Homo sapiens: one gene and its partners. The protein of the gene in region 2 purifies or fractionates together with the protein of the main gene of each other region. This does not show direct contact. Each region holds a gene or a part of one and is shown on either strand. Other genes may lie near its edges.

The links. Proteins that work in one complex are often made in the same cells at the same time.
Region 1: the proteins of TXNDC12 (region 2) and TM2D3 purify together in Homo sapiens (co-immunoprecipitation; 3 studies listed by BioGRID and IntAct, with this or other methods). This does not show direct contact.
Region 3: the proteins of TXNDC12 (region 2) and TUBGCP2 purify together in Homo sapiens (affinity purification with mass spectrometry; 2 studies listed by BioGRID and IntAct, with this or other methods). This does not show direct contact.

The regions. Positions count from the first base shown.
Region 1 is NC_000015.10:101,642,374-101,649,405, reverse strand, and holds part of TM2D3 (TM2 domain-containing protein 3 isoform a precursor), read left to right. Parts: intron 1-2,506; coding exon 2,507-2,681; intron 2,682-4,243; coding exon 4,244-4,319; intron 4,320-6,761; coding exon 6,762-6,927; 3' UTR 6,928-7,032. UniProt on the Homo sapiens protein: Probable positive regulator of Notch signaling.
Region 2 is NC_000001.11:52,019,630-52,024,222, reverse strand, and holds the end of TXNDC12 (thioredoxin domain-containing protein 12 precursor), read left to right. Parts: intron 1-648; coding exon 649-732; intron 733-3,210; coding exon 3,211-3,290; 3' UTR 3,291-4,092; downstream 4,093-4,593. UniProt on the Homo sapiens protein: Protein-disulfide reductase of the endoplasmic reticulum that promotes disulfide bond formation in client proteins through its thiol-disulfide oxidase activity.
Region 3 is NC_000010.11:133,291,865-133,298,896, reverse strand, and holds part of TUBGCP2 (gamma-tubulin complex component 2), read left to right. Parts: intron 1-785; coding exon 786-945; intron 946-1,492; coding exon of another isoform or gene 1,493-1,576; intron 1,577-5,127; coding exon 5,128-5,335; intron 5,336-5,658; coding exon 5,659-5,858; intron 5,859-6,208; coding exon 6,209-6,398; intron 6,399-6,849; exon of another isoform or gene 6,850-7,032. UniProt on the Homo sapiens protein: Component of the gamma-tubulin ring complex (gTuRC) which mediates microtubule nucleation.

The DNA of each region.
Region 1 (7,032 bases), on a different chromosome or scaffold from region 2:
TATTTTTCTAAGTATGAAATAAAGTTTAGAAGCCATAAAATAAAGAATTGATACATTTGACTCCTAAAAATTGGAGATTTCTGCATGACCTAAAAAAAAAAGCATAAAGGCAAAAGACATGGCAAACTAGGAAAAAGCGTTTCTAGAATATGTGACAAATAATACAGTAATATCAGTAATATATAAACACTTCCTAAAACCCACACGGAAAAGATGACAGTCTTGTAGAAAAACAGTGTTAGGACATGAGCAGATGGTTCATAGGAAAGGAAATACAAATAGATATATAACATGAAAAACATATAAGTTTTCTCATAGTATTTAATTAATACATTTTTAACCCTTAGATTGGCAATTTTTTTTTAATTTGATTAACTCTGAGTTTGTGAGAGTATAAGGGTCAGATGCTCATATCTTATTAATAGGTAATCAAATTGATCAACCTCTTGTAGGCGATTTGCCATATCTGTTAAACTTACACATGCACACAATCGTTGAGCTCGTAGTTGTACATGTAGGAATTTATGTTATAGATATCATTATACATGGATGCAGATAAGTGTGCTTATTTTTTAGCTGCATTGCTCATTAAAGCAAAAGATTCAAAAGAAGTGAAATGTCTAAGAACTGCTTAATTTATGGTACACGTGTAATAGAATAAACACCTTGTAGCCATTAAAAAGAACTAGGCAGCTCTAGAGGTAATGTACTGATAGATGTCCAAAATTAAGTGAAAGTATTGGGGAACATTAAATGTAGGTGACATAAATGTGCCTATGTGTAGAATCAGCTCTCTCTGGAAGCACAGAGCGTACTTGGCCTGGGGAGGGCAGGGGCTCCCGGCGGCTGGGCCAGACGAGGCCGGCTCACTTCTCACTCTCCTGTTGTGTCTTGACATGTGTTCCATGTACATGTGTCACCTACTTTTTAAAAAACCATTAAAAAAAGTGTGTTTTAAGCACATCACTGAAAATAGGCAGATGTAAACGTATTATTTTGCAGATCCAACTGTTTGCCTAAATCAAGTGATGCCTTACCCATATTTGAATGTTTTCCATAAAAAGTGGTTTTTGCATTGATAAGAAAATGAATAGTACTTGCTTCATCAGCGCATATGCCAAAGTTGGAACCATACAGAGAGAATTAGGATGGCTCTTCTGCAAAAATGACATGCAAATTTGTGAAATGTTAAAAAAAATAACAAACATGGGCCGGGCGTGGTGGCCTACACCTGTAATCCCAGCACTTTGGCAGGCCGAGGCAGGTGAATCACCTGAGGTCAGAGGTTGAGACCAGCCTGGCCAACATGGTGAAACCCCATCTGTACTAAAAATACAAAAATTAGCTGGGCGTGGTGGGGTGCGTCTCTAATCCCAGCTACTCAGGAGGCTGAGGCAGGAGAATCGCTTGAACCTGGGAGGCGGAGGTTGAAGTGAGCCGAGATTGCACCACCGCATTCCAGCCTGGGCGACAGAGCGAGACTCCATCTCAAAAAAAGAAAAAAAAATAATGTGTGTATGTGTATATATATGTATACATATATATACATGATGCTTCCAGAGATGTGTGACCACATAAAAATGATTTTGAAAAATATGCACTGCAATGTAATGTCAGGTAGAGTAAAAAGACTACAAAGTGCTTTCAGTATAATTCCATTTTAGTAAATTTATAAATATACATGTAGAAGAAACGGAAAGAAGATTAAAAGTGGTTAGCTCTGAACACCTATAGGTTTTTGTCTATAATCTTCAAATATGTAACATACAAAGAACATTCTACTTTTGTAAGCAGAATACAAAATAATGGCTTTTAAAATTGAAATGAAAAATTCTCTGGCCACCAGTGAACACTCACTGAGCCTCCACACACCATGTGGTGCTTCTGAGTTGGGCTGCCTCTGGATTAAACATGCCACATGCCCTGGTGGTAGGAGCAGCTGTAACAACCCTGAGTTGCCAGGCTGTGCAAGGTAGGGGATGTTAGGGAAGGTTGGCAACTCGGAAGCAAGGCGGTGTGTTAACCATTACAGAAGCATCAGGCTGGAGTTCAGGGACCTGGATTCCACTCCTCACTTGAAGCTCAGTGACCTTCAACAAATGCATTCATCAGTTCCTTCCAGCCATCCGTGATTGTGACTTTCTAAAATAAATTTTCCTCTTTTCTGCATTATAAAAGTATACGTTTACTATGAAAAATTTAGCTAAGCAAAAGTTATGAAATAATTATATCACCCTGAAATAACCTTTGCTATTTTGATGTGAATTTATCTAGTTTTTTCCCTTAAGTACATATGTTTGGGTGTGTAGTTTTATGATTATGAGGTCACATCATAGGCATTTGTTTTACATACATATTGTTTTGGTAACTGTTTTTCTGGCACTTACTCCTAGGTCCTAAATACAAGCATTTACGGAATTTTGTGCCATGTGACTGTGTAGTCTTACTGACATCTTAACAGACTACACCATTGTGATTGATGAGTTTTGTGTCATTTGCTACATAGGATCAAGACTTCAAATCCCAAAAGAACTTCATCATTAACATGACTTGCAGATTTTGCTGGCAGCTTCCTGAAACAGATTACGAGTGTACCAACTCCACCAGCTGCATGACGGTGTCCTGTCCTCGGCAGCGCTACCCTGCCAACTGCACGGTGCGGGACCACGTCCACTGCTTGGGTAGGTCAGAGTTCAAGGACATTTGTCAACAAAATGTTTTTCTCCAAGTTTATTGAAGGGACTTTAACCAGAAATTTGCGAGTCAAGTTACTTAATTAGAAACATTTATCAGCAGCTCTTTAGATGTGCCAAGCATCATCAATAAACTCAACGTACTAAAGTAAAGCATCCAGAAAATTGCAGTTCTTTTTAAATGTAATATTTGATAAAATAAGAAAAACATTTGAAGTATAAAGCATAATACACAGTAATTGACCTTTACCCAAAATAACAATGAAAGCAGCACCAATACCATTGCGGCCGCCTGAGTGCCTGAGTGCTTGCCTTCACCTGGTTGCCTTTCCTCCTCTTCCAAGGTAACCACCCTTTTGAATTTTTTATTTCACTTCCTTTTAAATTTTTTCTGTAGTTTTATTGTCTATATGTAATAAAATAATATTCAATAATGCATGTTTTAGAACCGTGTAAAATGATTTCAGGCTGTGTGCTCTTCTGGGACTTGCTTATTTCCTAAACATTGTGGCTCTAGGATTCATCCACGTGACTTCTCTTCTTTTTTTTACTTCTGTGTAATAATCTATTGTAAGATTGTATCACAGTTTATTCTCCAATATATTTGGTTAAGTGCTGTTTTCCGCTGTTGTGACTGTTCAAATTTCTTTGCCTGTCTCCCAATGGCACAGGTGCAAGAGCTTCTTCAGCATGTACTTTCCAGCGTGTGTCATTCTTTAAATGGCTGTATTGACTGGCATTCCCACCCGCGCTATGTAACTGTTCCTGATGAGCCATATTCTCTCCAAGAGTGGTTATTCTTAAATTTGGTCTTAAAGTTGTCTAGACTTCTTTTATATTTTGGATATTACCTGTGCTGTCCCTGAAACCCTCTCCCAGATTTTGATTTTTTTTTTTTTTGCATTATTGTATATTTTCATGAACAGAACTTTAAAAATATAATTACTGGAAGTTATTAGAGTTAGTCCTTTTTTGTGGTGGTTTTAAGAAATCTTTTTCTACCCCAGGTTAATAAAGACAATTTGCTACATTTTCTTTTGAAAGTTGTAAGTATAACATTTCACATTTAGGTTTAGAATCCACCTGGAATTGGTCCTGGTAGATGGTGTGAGGTAGATTCTACTTTAATTGTCCCCCCACATGGATGGCCAGTTGTCTCAACTCTTCCCTGTTGATCCGTGTGTGACCTCTGTCATAACACTCATACATGAAGTGTTTGTATATTTCTGGTTCTTGACTTTCTCTTCTTTTCCTATTGGGTGATTTTTATGCCTCAAGACTACACTGTCTTATATACTCGTAACTTCCCCGTAGGTCTTGATATGTGGGTGAGCATTTCATGTTCCTCACGTTGTAATCCTAACTTAGCTGATTTAAATATTACATCTATGTAGATAGATGGTAAGCGCTTTGTACTCTTCACTTCAACATGTATTACCGTAAAGAGAGTTGACTTTTCACATTTTAAATTTTGAGCCCATTTGTTACAATTAAGTCTTTCTGAGAGTATTTTTTATACCCTGTATTTTTCTTTCTTTTTTTTTTTTAAGGTAACCGTACTTTTCCCAAAATGCTATATTGCAATTGGACTGGAGGCTATAAGTGGTCTACGGCTCTGGCTCTAAGGTAAGCCTTGTTACTCGTAAGTGTAAAAGGCCGTTTGCATTTCTTTGGGATTGGTGGAATCTTCAGACATTGAGCTCAGTCCCCTTCATTCTTCACTCAGATCCTACCACGTGTGTTAGACTCTAGCAAACAGCTGGAAGAGTTTAGATGATCAGACCAGTACCTCCGTGGAGTTGACTGGCAGGCATGTTAGCTTTTCTCCCAAGATGCCTGCACATTACGTTTACCATTCTGAATGTACCACGAATCAGTAAAATGCTGTGGACTATCCAAAATAGGCAGTTTTATGATGTATATCTTTAATTTTAAGTAACTATTATAAAAAGTAATACATGATGAACACTGAAAACTGGAAAAATGAAAATGACAAAAACATTAAAAATTACCTATAATTTCATCAGCAGCAGATAATTATAGGCTTATATTTCTTACATAGAAATGTGCTGTTTGTTAAACTTCTCAACAGTACTTTAAGAAATTATAGCAGTTCTTCCCACCAAAGGGAAGGGCAGGTAAGACCCTGGTTAACTGATTAGTGAAAAGGTTACGCTGCCTACACTTGAAGTTTTGAGTTCGTGCCTGAGACCCTGAGGCCTGCAGCATTGCAGCCATAGGGCAGGATTTCTCAGCCTCATCACTGCTGACGTTCTGGGCTGAATGAGTTTTTGTCTTGGGGCTGTGCTGTGCATAGCAGGGTGTTGAGCAGCATCACTGGCCTCTACCTACTACTTGTCAGTAGCAAACCCCCCATCCCTTGCAGCTGTGACAGTGTGTCTCCAGATGTTGCCAGGTGTCCCCTAGGGGACAAAATTGCCCCTTGCTGAGAACCACTGCATTAGAATTTGAGCTGAGGAAAGAAGGATCTTGCCTGGCAGGAAAAGTGTAACTGAAAAGTAAAAGAGGGTGCCAGGATAGAAAATGAGACTAACAAAAATAAGATAGGGCGGGCGCGATGGCTCACACCTGTAATCCCAGCGCTTTGGGAGGCCGAGGCTGGCGGATTGCTTGAGGTCAGGAGTTCAAGACCAGCCTGGCCAACATGGTGAAACCCCATCTCTACCAAAAATACAAAAGCCTGCCATCGTGGTTCATGTCTGTGGTTCCAGCTGCGTGGTAGGCTGCAATGGGAAGATCACTTGAGCCCAGGAGGAGGAGGCTGCAGTGAGCTGGCATTGCACCACTGCACTCCAGCCTCAGTGACAGAGTGAGATTCTGTCTCAAAAAAAAAGATTAGTAACCATTGCTGACAATGGTTCAAATTAACAACTGGCTTTTTAAAAAAATAAATAAATGTTTGAAACTTGGAATAATTTTAATTTACAGAAAAGTTGCAAAGATAGTAGAGTTCTTATATACCCCTAACCTGGTTTCCCTACATTGTTAACCTCTTACAGTACTATACTGTAACATACTTTCAACAATTAAAACTTCTCAGCACTCAACATGGTTTTTTTTTTTTTTTGCTTTTTTTTTTTTTTTTTTTTTTTAACGGAGTCTCTCTCTGTCACCCAGGCTGGAGTGCAGTGGCTCAATCTCGGCTTACTGCAAGCTCCACCTCCCAGGTTCACGCCATTCTCCTGCCTCAGCCTCCCGAGCAGCTGGGACTACAGGCGCCCGCCACCACGCCTGGCTAATTTTTTGTATTTTTAATAGAGACAGGGTTTCACCGTGTTAGCCAGGATGGTCTGGATCTCCTGACCTTGTGATCCGCCTGCCTCAGCCTCCCAGAGTGCTGGGATGACAGGCGTGAGCCACCGCGCCCGGCAACATGGTTTCTTTTAAAATCATCACTGTAATGAGATGATGCCCAAGGTTTGCTTCAGGGTACTCTGGAGGGGAAAGAGGAGGGTTTTGATGAAACACAGCTGGCCAAGTGTTGATTATTGGAGCTGAGTCATGGGTACTGTTCTCTTTACTTTTTATTGTTAGGTGTTTAGAAATTTTCCATAATATAGTTTCAGTATTATTAGATCTTAGAATTTAAAAGATCCTTAAATCTTTTAAGGATTTATTCCTAACATTAAGATTTTAGAGATGAATGAAAAAATAGACTGAAAACATGGATGACTTGATCCAGGTCGTCCAGGTGGTGGTGAGCTCCTCCTGACTCCAGCCCTGACCCCGTGTTAGTGCACTTCCTGTTAGACTGGGTCTTTGCTTTATTTTGACTAAAAAGCAATGAGATTGATAACTTTAAAAAAAGAAAACATTGGTTTTTTAGTACAGCTAAAAATTGTATGTTTACTTTTGACATTTAAACTGTCTTCCTGCCCGTAATTATTTGGTGGTGTCAGTTTGTGAAATAGTCACTTGTGTTCCAGTTAAGGGCTACGATCAGGGGAAGCCCTTTCTCAAATCTGACATAATGTGGTGATTAAACCGTGACTGGCCACAGCTGGGGTGGAGGTGGTCTCATGGAATCCTGTCTGTTTGCCATCGCAGCATCACCCTCGGTGGGTTTGGAGCAGACCGTTTCTACCTGGGCCAGTGGCGGGAAGGCCTCGGCAAGCTCTTCAGCTTCGGTGGCCTGGGAATATGGACGCTGATAGACGTCCTGCTCATTGGAGTTGGCTATGTTGGACCAGCAGATGGCTCTTTGTACATTTAGCTGTGGTGTGTGCTTCAGAAAGGAGCAGGGCTTAGAAAAAGCCCTTTTGTCCGTAGGAGTTGATGTGGTGTGAGTGATATATTTCTATGTTTTTAATGTACAGCA
Region 2 (4,593 bases):
TCCAATTTGAGACCAGCATGGGCAACACGGTGAAAGCCCGTCTCTACAAAAAGTACAAAAATTAGCCGGGTGTGGTGGCACGCACCTGTAGTCTCAGCTATTTAGGAGGCTGAGGCGGGAGGATCAATTGAGCCTGGGAGGTCAAGGCTGCAGTGAGCCATAATCACGCCACTGCCCTTGAGCCTGAATGACAGAAGGAAACTGAATGACCCTGTCTCAAAAAAAAAAAAAAGAGTTTGATCATTTATTCACTTCAATAGCCATTTGCGCATCAGCCATATGTCAAGCACTGTATTAGACACTACAGAGACAGATATAAGCCAGAATTCTCACCCTTGAACCTATAGTGCACCTAAGGCAATGGAATAATATAACCAGATAAATGTCTTTCCACAAATAATTTTATAAGAGATATTTAATGACCACCTAATCTTTGTTCAGCATAAATTCTGCTAGGTTTTATGGGGGATAGAAGTCAAAATCATCAAGCAGAAAAGGAAGCAGAAATGTAGGAGGTATTATGGTGAGGTAATGGGCTGCAAATATGGGCAGATCTTATTTCCCAGAGGGCCCGATGTACCAGGTAGTGTTTGAAGTACCTGTCTGTTGTAATTACTGCAAAACTCTGTGTCATTTTGTCTATAACAGATCCCAGTGGCAAGGTGCATCCTGAAATCATCAATGAGAATGGAAACCCCAGCTACAAGTATTTTTATGTCAGTGCCGAGCAAGGTATAGTTATGCTGAAGGGAGGGAGGATTATTGCTAGATTGAACTAGGATGAACCACATGCAAGGTCTGTGATAGGAAAGTAAATTCAGCATGTTAGCTGAGCATCTCCTGCATGTCTATAGCTTTTGGCCAGATCCTGTGTAGGATATAGGAGGAAGATGAGACTGAGCCCCTTCCCTTGGAAGAGCTGACTGACCCACAGGCAGCTGTGAAGAACTGAGGCACACAAGTGACTGAGGTAGTCACTTGCCCATAGTTTCATAGTTAAGTAGCAGAGCCAGAATTTGAGTCCAGAACTTAGTTTTTTTCCTACTGAGCTAATACTGTTTTTCCTATGAAAATTCAGTGGAAGAGGAATAGTGTTAGGTGAACAAGTCTAAGAGGTTTTATAGATATTAAACTTAAATAGGCCGAGCACAGTGGCTCATACCTGTAATCTCAGCACTTTGGGAGGCCGAGGCAGGCAGATCACTTGAGGTCAGGAGTTCAAGACCAGCCTGGCCAACATGGCAAAGCCCCATCTCTACTAAAAATACAAAAAATAGCTGAGCGGGCTGGGCGTGGTGGCTCACGCCTGTAATCCCAGCACTTTGGGAGGCCGAGGCGGGAGGATCATGAGGTCAGGAGATTGAGACCATCCTGGCTAACATGGTGAAACCCCGTCTCTACTAAAAATACAAAAAATTAGCTGGCGTGGTGGCAGGTGCCTGTAGTCCCAGCTACTCGGGAGGCTGAGGCAGGAGAATGGCGTGAACCCGAGAGGCAGAGGTTGCAGTGAGCCAAGATCGTGCGCCATTGCACTCTAGCCTGGGTGACAGAGCGAGACTCTGTCTCAAAAAAAAAAAAAAAAAAAAACCAAAAAAACCCCGAAACGTAAACGGACCTAGAAGGATAAAAATTTCATCTCTGGACAGATATGAGGAGGACATTTCAAGCTATGGAAGTGAAGTGGCGGGGGAATGTAGCCCAACATAGAGTTTGTAAGGCTTGCTAGAAGAAATAATGACTGGATTAAGCCTTAGAGAATAAGACCTTGTCAGTAGCAGAATGGGAAAAGCATGTTCCAGGAGAGAGAAGAGCACCAGCACAAACAAGTGAAGGAAGTTTGCAATCGTCAGCCAGTCATGCTTTTTTGTTCTCTAATCTTTGAGCACAGTCATTCTGGAGGCAGGGGTTGGAATTCATGCCATGTATTGTTGCTGCTTTCCTTCCTTTTCCCCTCATCTATGAAAGGGAGTTGTGTGCTAAGTTGCCATGTGTCCCTATTTGCCATGCTGCCAGGCTGTTGATCACTTTATGATTTGAGTCCTTGATACTCTTATTCTCAGACTAGGGACGGGGAGGAGATCTGTAGAAGCTATTACCTTCTTCCCCTGAGTAAGGAGAATGTCATGTTCCTTAACCAAATGCAGATCACTGGAGATTGGTATCAAAGGGAAATTTTCCACGTGGAGAAGGGCAGCTGGGCTTTAGGTCTCCAATTCTTGTATCTTGAGATTCACCTTCCCTTTAGAATTTCATCCAAGTTACCACTGCTGTCTCCACACTGACATAGTCCAGATGTGAACATGAGACCCTTCCCTGAATCCTCCATCTCTCAGCTGACATGAAACTGGAACATTCAAACCCAGCTTTACTAAAGGCATAGGCAAAACAAAACAGAAATAACAAACTGTATTATCTGCCTCTTATGAGCTTATGGTTTGGCTTTGCAAGATTCATAGACTCTGGCTCAACCCAGCTTCTGGCCTGCCATTATATAGGGGTGCTTTGTAGAACCACCATTCAGGAGCCTATACTGAAATAGCTGTCCCCCTTGAGTCTAAATCCATAAGCAGGATGCCCCAAGACAGACAAGAAGTTTCATCTCGAGTCTACTTAAGGCCCTCCTTCCAGGTTTCTCTCTCTCTTTTTTTTTTTTTTTTTTTTTGGCCTGAGAACTTGGCTTCATCCATGTATAGTTGATACTGGAAATGACGACCCCCTTCAGTAGAGACACCCCCGCCCCAGCACACACACCCCTCAGTGTAATCTGTAACCTCCACAGGAAGTAAAATAAGTGCAACATTCATCCAAAAGATACAATGGGGACGGTAGGAAGGTGTTTCCTCTTCCCTGGGGGTGAAGTGAACATCTACAGTCTAGGACAGGGGATCAGCTCTAATCCTAGAGGGTAAGCCAAAATAACTGCTAAGATTTTGGTATGACTTCGTAGTTGATAAAGCACTTTTATTATCCATTCTCCCATTTAACTTTTATAATACTGTGTGAAGTGAGTTACATTATTTCATTTTATAAATGAGGAAACAAATTCAAAGAGATAAATGACTTGCCAGGGCCAAAATCCAGAGCTAGATCTTGAGTCCAGATCTTGTACTCCTCTCATATTTCTTCTGAAACATTTAAAAGTGTACATTGGTTGTCAAATGTCAAACATTACTTACTTCATACTTTTTTCCTCCAATCTTTATTTCACAGTTGTTCAGGGGATGAAGGAAGCTCAGGAAAGGCTGACGGGTGATGCCTTCAGAAAGAAACATCTTGAAGATGAATTGTAACATGAATGTGCCCCTTCTTTCATCAGAGTTAGTGTTCTGGAAGGAAAGCAGCAGGGAAGGGAATATTGAGGAATCATCTAGAACAATTAAGCCGACCAGGAAACCTCATTCCTACCTACACTGGAAGGAGCGCTCTCACTGTGGAAGAGTTCTGCTAACAGAAGCTGGTCTGCATGTTTGTGGATCCAGCGGAGAGTGGCAGACTTTCTTCTCCTTTTCCCTCTCACCTAAATGTCAACTTGTCATTGAATGTAAAGAATGAAACCTTCTGACACAAAACTTGAGCCACTTGGATGTTTACTCCTCGCACTTAAGTATTTGAGTCTTTTCCCATTTCCTCCCACTTTACTCACCTTAGTGGTGAAAGGAGACTAGTAGCATCTTTTCTACAACGTTAAAATTGCAGAAGTAGCTTATCATTAAAAAACAACAACAACAACAATAACAATAAATCCTAAGTGTAAATCAGTTATTCTACCCCCTACCAAGGATATCAGCCTGTTTTTTCCCTTTTTTCTCCTGGGAATAATTGTGGGCTTCTTCCCAAATTTCTACAGCCTCTTTCCTCTTCTCATGCTTGAGCTTCCCTGTTTGCACGCATGCGTGTGCAGGACTGGCTGTGTGCTTGGACTCGGCTCCAGGTGGAAGCATGCTTTCCCTTGTTACTGTTGGAGAAACTCAAACCTTCAAGCCCTAGGTGTAGCCATTTTGTCAAGTCATCAACTGTATTTTTGTACTGGCATTAACAAAAAAAGAGATAAAATATTGTACCATTAAACTTTAATAAAACTTTAAAAGGAAATGTGCTGTGATGGCCTTTTTGTTATTGGAAAAGGAGGGAGGGATGGAGATCACTTCAGGAAGAAAACTAACCTAGAGGACCTAATCTAGGAGTCCTAACCTAGGACTCCTGCTCCTTCACCTCCCACATTCAAATGAGCACAATGGCTCCTCTCTTTTACTTTTTAAATACCTGAATTTCCTCTGTCCACACTATCACTGTTTTAGCACGGGGCAGGCTTTTTCTCTCTTCGACTATTTATTGCTATAGCCCCTTAACTTGCCTATTGGCTCTAATATTCCCTCCTCCTGCAATCGATCCATATCACTCCCCTGTTTAAAACCTTTCCTGGCTGGACACAGTGGCTCACGCCTGTACTCCCAGCACTTTGGGAGGCCAAGGTGGGCGAATCACCTGAGGTAGGGAGTTCGAGACCAGCCTGGCCAACATGGCGAAACCCCGGCTCTACTAAAAATACAAAATTAGGCCGGGCGCGGTGACTCACGCCTGTAATCCCGGCAC
Region 3 (7,032 bases), on a different chromosome or scaffold from region 2:
CCTTTGGAGCTGTGTCCCTGAGGCGTCCTAGCCTCCTGGGTGCGTGTTGAGTGCAGCGGCTCCCAAGGACCCAGCCGGTTCTTGCTGGGCACGTTCTGTGCTGGACATGGTGCTAGGCCTCTGTCCACGTCTCCCTCAGCCGTGGCAGAAGACTGGGTCTTACTGCCACGTGCAGAGACAGTTTGCATCTGCCCGTGTCCCTGACCAGCCCTGAGTGGGAGTCAGTGCTTCCGAAAGCTGGGCCAGCCCAGGCCGACCCCATCAGCCTCTGGCGGCCACTGGCGCAGGAGGGCAGGCTCTCTGACCACATGTCAGGAGCCATCCTGTCACGCTGGGGCCCTTCTCCGGCAGGGTAAGGATGCATGTCTGTTGCTGAAGCCTGTCTTCACCCATCAAGTGGTGTTCAGACCTAGTCACTGCCAGAAAGAAGCAATTCAGCTTGTTCACAGGGCGCCCTCCTTTGAAACAGCGGCTCTGTGCCTAGGTGCACCCTCTCCCGTGGTTCCCACTGCTGGTGCTCATGTTTTCCCAGGGGGGCCCTTGCAGGACCTGCACTCCTGAGAAGAGGGGCTAGGGCTCCCCATCTGCCCTGTTGTCCCCAGCCCCTCACGTTGTGGCAGGCAGGGATGTCGAGGCGCATTTCATTTCTATGTGGTTGACCCTTTGTGGGTGTTGAATTGAGTAATCATCTTTGCCGTAGATGCTAGCTTCTATGCATGTCTTTAGTTGAGTGTTTGCGCTAAAGTGTATCTTTCTGGTTTTGTTTTTTAAAATGTCCTTGCTAGTCTCTGGAACTTAAAAGAAAGATGCTTCGAGACAAGCAGAACAAAAAAAATTCAGGCCAGCACCTCCCCATCTTCCCAGCATGGGTGTATGAGAGACCTGCCCTGATCGGGGATTTCCTGATTGGTGCTGGCATCAGCACAGACACCGCTTTGCCGATAGGTACGTGATGCGTTGATTTCCGGGCTCTGCCGATAGGTACGTGATGCGTTGATTTCCGGGCTCTGCCGATAGGTATGTCATGTGTTTATTTCTGGCCTCTGGGCAGGACACTTTGCAGGCCCAGCCCTCCCCCGGGCCTGCCTTTCCTCAGGTTGTGAGGCTCAATGCTGACTGGCTGCCGCCTCCATATTCCCATCCCAGGATGGCAGCAGAGAACGGCTCACCCGGGTCCTTGAGGGTTCTTCTCCTGTCCCTTCTGCCAGAGCTGTGGGGCAGCCTGCAGCAGGCCCCTCCCCAGCCGGCATCCTGGTGCCCTGGTGCAGACCTGCAGGCATCAGAATTGTGTGCAGCACTTATTTCTGAACAGCGATTCATGACTCCCATAGATTCTGTTACAGCAGTATTCTCAGAGGCCTCTTAAGTAGTGTTCGTGTAAACAAGATGCGGGTGAGACCACACAGTCATTTCAAGACGTTGTTATTGGGGACCTGGGATGTGTTCATCTGTCACAATTCATGGGTACATTTTTATTTTTATTTATTTTTAGTTCTTTTGAGATGGAATCTCGCTCTGTCGCCCAGGCTGAAGTGCAGTGGCGTGATCTCGGCACACTGCAACCTCCACCTCCCAGGTTGAAGCGATTCTCCTGCCTCAGCCTCCCAAGTAGCTGGGACTGCAGGCGCCACCACGCCTGGCTAATTTTTATATTTTTAGTAGAGACGGGGTTTTGCCGTGTTGGCCAGACTGGTCTCGAACTCCTGACCTCTGGTGATCTGCCCACCTTGGCCTCACAAAGTGCTGGGATTACAGGCATGAGCCACCACGCCTAGTCAAGTACATTTTTAGATTGAAAAATGAGATTTCACAAACTAAGGACAGAGCATACCTGCTTATCTTGCCCCATCCCCGTTAGTCCAAACTCAAGAGGCAGCATGGAGCGTGGTCTGCTTCCCCACTACTCACGGCTCTGCAATGTGGGCACCAAGGGGCCAACCCTTGCCTTTGCCGGAAACCCTGGAGAACGGTGACGTGAAATCCACCTGTTTTCCTCATCCCCAAGCAAACAGAACCCTGCTGTAAGTTAATGAAAAGTATAGAAAAACCCTGCTGTAAGTTATGAGAAGTATAGAAAACCATGCTGTAAGTTAATGAAAAGTATGGAAAACAGTCTACTTCGGCCAGGCATGGTGGCTCACACCTGTAATCCCAGCACTTAGGGAGGTGAGGTGCGTGGATTCCTTGAGCCCAGGAATTCGAGACCAGCCTGGGCGACAGGACGAGACTAGTCTCTACAAAAAATGTGAAAATTAGCCGAGTGTGGTAGCGTGCACCTGTAGTCCCAGCTACTCAGGAGGCTGAGGTGGGAGGATCACTTGAGCCTGAGAGGTCGAGGCTGCAGTGAGCTGTGATCGTGCCACTGCACTCCAGCCTGGGCAACAGAGCGAGACCCTGTTTCAAAAAAAAAAAAACAAAGCAGTCTGCTTTGTGCAGTGTTTTCAGTAATAATCCAACTGTGAAAACCCAACTGTGAAGACTTAGGGAGAGAGAGCTGCTCCCTTAGCGGGTACTCAGCAGGCAGCCGGGGAGTGGTGGGCACCTGAGAGCTCCTGATGGTACCCAGGCAGACTTCGGAGAAGGAAGCGCGGGGCCCTGCTGCCTGGGATCCCAGCAGTGGAGCCGGCTTTTTGGAGCAGGAGGCACTGAGGGGGTGTTCAGGCTTTCCCCCCATGTTTCCCCATTCAGGGAAGGGGTTGTACAAAAGAGGAACGCACTGTCCAGTAACGCTGCGGCGCCGTGGGCAGCTCTGAGCGTGGCGGTGATTGGCAGCAAGTGTGTGAGACTTGGCTGTGAACCCTGCAGCCAGCTCTCAGGTCAGGGTGCAGGTGCCCTCAGCACACTCAGCATCCCAGGAAAGGGGCGGCCTCGCCCCACCTCCCTCCCACGGCCACATACCACAGGTCCCAGGGGTGCCTCCGGTATTGAGGCTGCCTTGCCTCCCTTTGTCCGCACTGTCCCTGTCCCCTTGTGCCACCTGTGCAGACTTGAGAATGGAGCTCACTGTGGTGTTCATGCCGGGGCCTGTCTAGCTCCTCACCCCACGATTTGACCAGTGCCACACCACGGGACCTTGTGTGACCTCGGGCCTGCGTCCTCTGGAAAACAGCTGTGGAGTGGTGTGATGAGGACAGGTGCCTTGGAAAGCATCAGGACCTTGTGAGCACGAGGCAGCTGCCAGCACTCCACGTTCCCGCCATGCTCTCCTCACCGTGTGGGCATCCACCTGGCCAGCGCCGCCTCCGCAGTGCCCCTCCCTCTGGTCGCTCCCGCGCAGCATGCGAAGGTGTTATCTGCCCGCGTCCTGCCTTTTCCCCACACCGGCACGGAGGAGCCACGTGTTCGGTGGTCGTTCGGACGTGGTGATTTGCAGGTGACATCGCAGGTGTTGAGATGACACTGAGGATGTTGAATATTGGGGAGGTGAAGCAACTGACTCTTTTTTTGCTTGAGACAGGGTCTCACTTCGTTGCCTAGGCTGGAGTGCAGTGGCACAATCTCAGCTCACTGCAGCCTCGACCTCCCAAGCTCAGGTGATTCTCCCACCTCAGCCTCCCGAGTAGCTGGGACTGCAGGTGTGCACCATCACACGCAGCTAATTTCTGTATTTTCAGTAGAGACGGGGATTCGCCGTGTTGCCCAGGCTGGTCTTGAACTCCTGGAGTCAAGCGATCTGTCCACCTTGGCCTCCTAAAGTGATGGGATTACAGGTGTGAGCCACCATACCCGGCCTAAAGCAACCCTTGAGGTCCCTCCACAGCCAGGCGGCTGGATCCACACTAACCCCCACCCCACGGCACCTCCACCCCACCGTGAGGCTTCTCCCCACAAGGGCATTGGCCGAGGCTTCGTGGCTGTGGATGAATGAGGCCAACATGGTGGAAAGTAAGTGATGCAGAGTCAGAGGCAGTTCCTGGAAGATGCACTCGCTGTTCCCAAAACGCCAAGCCACACCCACTCCTTTAGGGATGGTAGACATTGGGGTCTCGGTTTTATTGGTCATCCTGAGAAGGCCACTGGAGTAATAGAAAGAAATGGAATTTGAAGTTGAAAAGTGTAGATCTGCCAGCCTGGGCAACACGGCAAGACCCCACCTTTACAAAAAATTTAAAAATTAGCCAGGAATGGTGGCACGTGCCAGTGGTCCCAGCTCCGAGGGAGACTAAGGATACAGGATCGCTTGAGCCTGGGTGCTCAAGGCTGCAGTGAGCTGAGATTGCACCACTGCCCTCCAGACTGGGTGACAGAGTGAGATTTGTCTCAAAAATAAAAAAAGGAAAAAAAAAAAACAAGGACAGTGTGGATCTGCATCAGGATTGAGGCTTTCGCTGAAGGGCTTGCGTTGGTGACGGATTGTAGTCTTGAGGCCTGCAGTCACAGGACACTTCCCAGCAGATGTGTGAGGCTGACAGAGTGATTTTGTAAACCGAAAGCCTGTTGTACGGAGCCTTCCTGAGCTGCCAGGGCCTGGTTTGGGTATGGTCTGGCTGGCACGGGGCCCTGTCAGGCCCTCGTGGGGACAGTTTCAACATCCTGCTTTCGTCTGGTGCTCCTCCCGGCCCCCCAGGCATGGCCCGCCTGAGGCTGTGGACTGAGAACTTGGTCCTGGGACCTGAGGGGTTTGGTGGGTGGCGGCCCGTGGCCGTCCTCGTGAGGAAGCTTAGCTGTGTGTCCTGCAGCCGTCTCATCCTCTCTGGATAGAAATTATCAAGAGTTTCTTAACGTTTAAGTGATAGCTTTTTAAAGACAAGGTTTTTTGTCCCAGAGTAACTCAGACTTACCAAGTTGTACTTACCAATGTTGAAAGTGCAGCTTCTGCTGGAGTCGCCTTTTCAACTCCTAACTTCACCTTTTCAAATGTCAGCCATGTATCTGAGCATTGCGGAGCCGAGTGTGGTGAGATCTTGACACCAGCCACCACGCCTCCCAGGCCGGCCCCGTCCTGCGGCGGTTGGAACTCAGCCTGTGGCTCCCCAGTGGGGTCAGTCAAAGCCAAGTGCAGTGGCTGACCTTTTATACCCATAAACAAAGATGAGCAAGAGTGAGACTGACCCGCAGATGAGGGCACGTGGCTGTGGGGGCATGGGAGTGGGGGCTGCAGAGCCACAGCGCTGTCTGTGCCCGCAGGCACGTTGCCCCTGGCCTCGCAGGAGTCGGCCGTGGTGGAGGACCTGCTGTACGTGCTGGTGGGCGTGGACGGGAGGTACGTCAGTGCTCAGCCCCTGGCTGGGAGGCAGAGCCGGACCTTCCTCGTGGACCCCAACCTGGACCTGTCCATCAGGGAGCTGGTGCACAGGATCCTCCCAGTGGCCGCCAGCTACTCCGCTGTGACCAGGTGGGCACCGGGCGCGGTCCCTGGGAGCCTGCGCTGTTGTGGGGGAGGGGTTAGGTCCCATCCTGATGACCATGGGGACGTCTGCATCGCTTCTAAAGAGAGCGCCCGCCTTGGTGACAACTCCGTGCCCAACTCAGTTTTGGAGGGTCTGTGAGTCACCATCCAGGGTCCTGACTCATCTCCTCCTGGGGCAAAAGTTCCCCTCTGGGATGTGGGGTTCAAGTGAGTCATTTGCTTCCTGTTTGGGATGAGACTCAGAATATCGGACATTGTATGTGCCTGCAGCTTGCCTTTTTGAGGAAGTCTGACAGCTTTTCTTCCAGGTTCATTGAAGAGAAGTCTTCCTTCGAGTACGGGCAGGTGAACCACGCCCTGGCGGCCGCCATGCGCACCCTGGTGAAGGAGCACCTGATTCTGGTGTCACAGCTGGAGCAGCTGCACAGGCAGGGCCTCCTTTCGCTGCAGAAGCTCTGGTTCTACATCCAGCCAGCCATGCGCACCATGGACATCCTGGCCTCCCTCGGTGCGTGCCCGCCCGGGGGGCATGGGGCAGTGGTGGGTGGCAGGTGTTGAACATGGCACCCAGTGTGAGGAGAGACTCTGCAGGGGCCGTGGAGCAGCTGCCCAGGGCAGGGGCGTGTGGCCAAAGCTCATGTTGCTCCATGTGCTATTAACTTGCAAGAGGAAAGCCCTGGAAGCTCTTACTGGTCAGCTGAAATCAGCAACTACAACCTTACAGTTAATACGTATCCCAAAGAAGCAGCACCGTCCCAGGAAGAAGGTTGGAGAAGCATGAGGGGCCCCAGCAGTGTTGTTGGCAGAGGCTGGGCGTGCGCTTCCTTCTCAGCAGTGAGCCCTCCTTTCTCCCCACAGCCACCTCGGTGGACAAAGGCGAATGTCTTGGGGGGTCCACGCTGAGCCTGCTCCACGACAGGAGCTTCAGCTACACAGGGGACAGCCAGGCGCAGGAGCTATGCCTGTACCTAACCAAGGCGGCCAGTGCTCCCTACTTCGAGGTTCTGGAGAAGTGGATCTACAGGGGCATCATCCACGACCCATACAGGTAGGGCTCCCCGGGACACGGGGACACGGAGGGACACGGGGACACGGAGGGACATGGGGGACACGGAGTGTGCATGCTGCCCTCTCCCGTACAGGTAGGGCTCCCCGGGACACGGGGACACGGGGGACACGGAGGGACACGGGGGACACGGAGTGTGCATGCTGCCCTCTCCCGTACAGGTAGGGCTCCCCGGGACACGGGGACATGGGGGACACGGAGGGACACGGGGGACACGGAGTGTGCATGCTGCCCTCTCCCGTACAGGTAGGGCTCCCCGGGACACGGGGACATGGGGGACACGGAGGGACACGGGGGACACGGAGTGTGCATGCTGCCCTCTCCCGTACAGGTAGGGCTCCCCGGGACACGGGGACATGGGGGACATGGGGGACACGGAGGGACACGGAGGGACACGGAGGGACACGGGGGACACGGAGGGACATGGGGGACACGGAGGGACACGGAGGGACACAGAGGGACATGGGGGACACGGAGGGTGCGTGCTGCCCTCTCCCGTACAGGTAGGGCTCCCCGGGACACGGGGACACGGAGGGACACGGAGGGACATGGGGGACACGGAGGGACATGGGGGACACGGACGGTGCATGCTGCCCTCTCCCGTACAGGTAGGGCT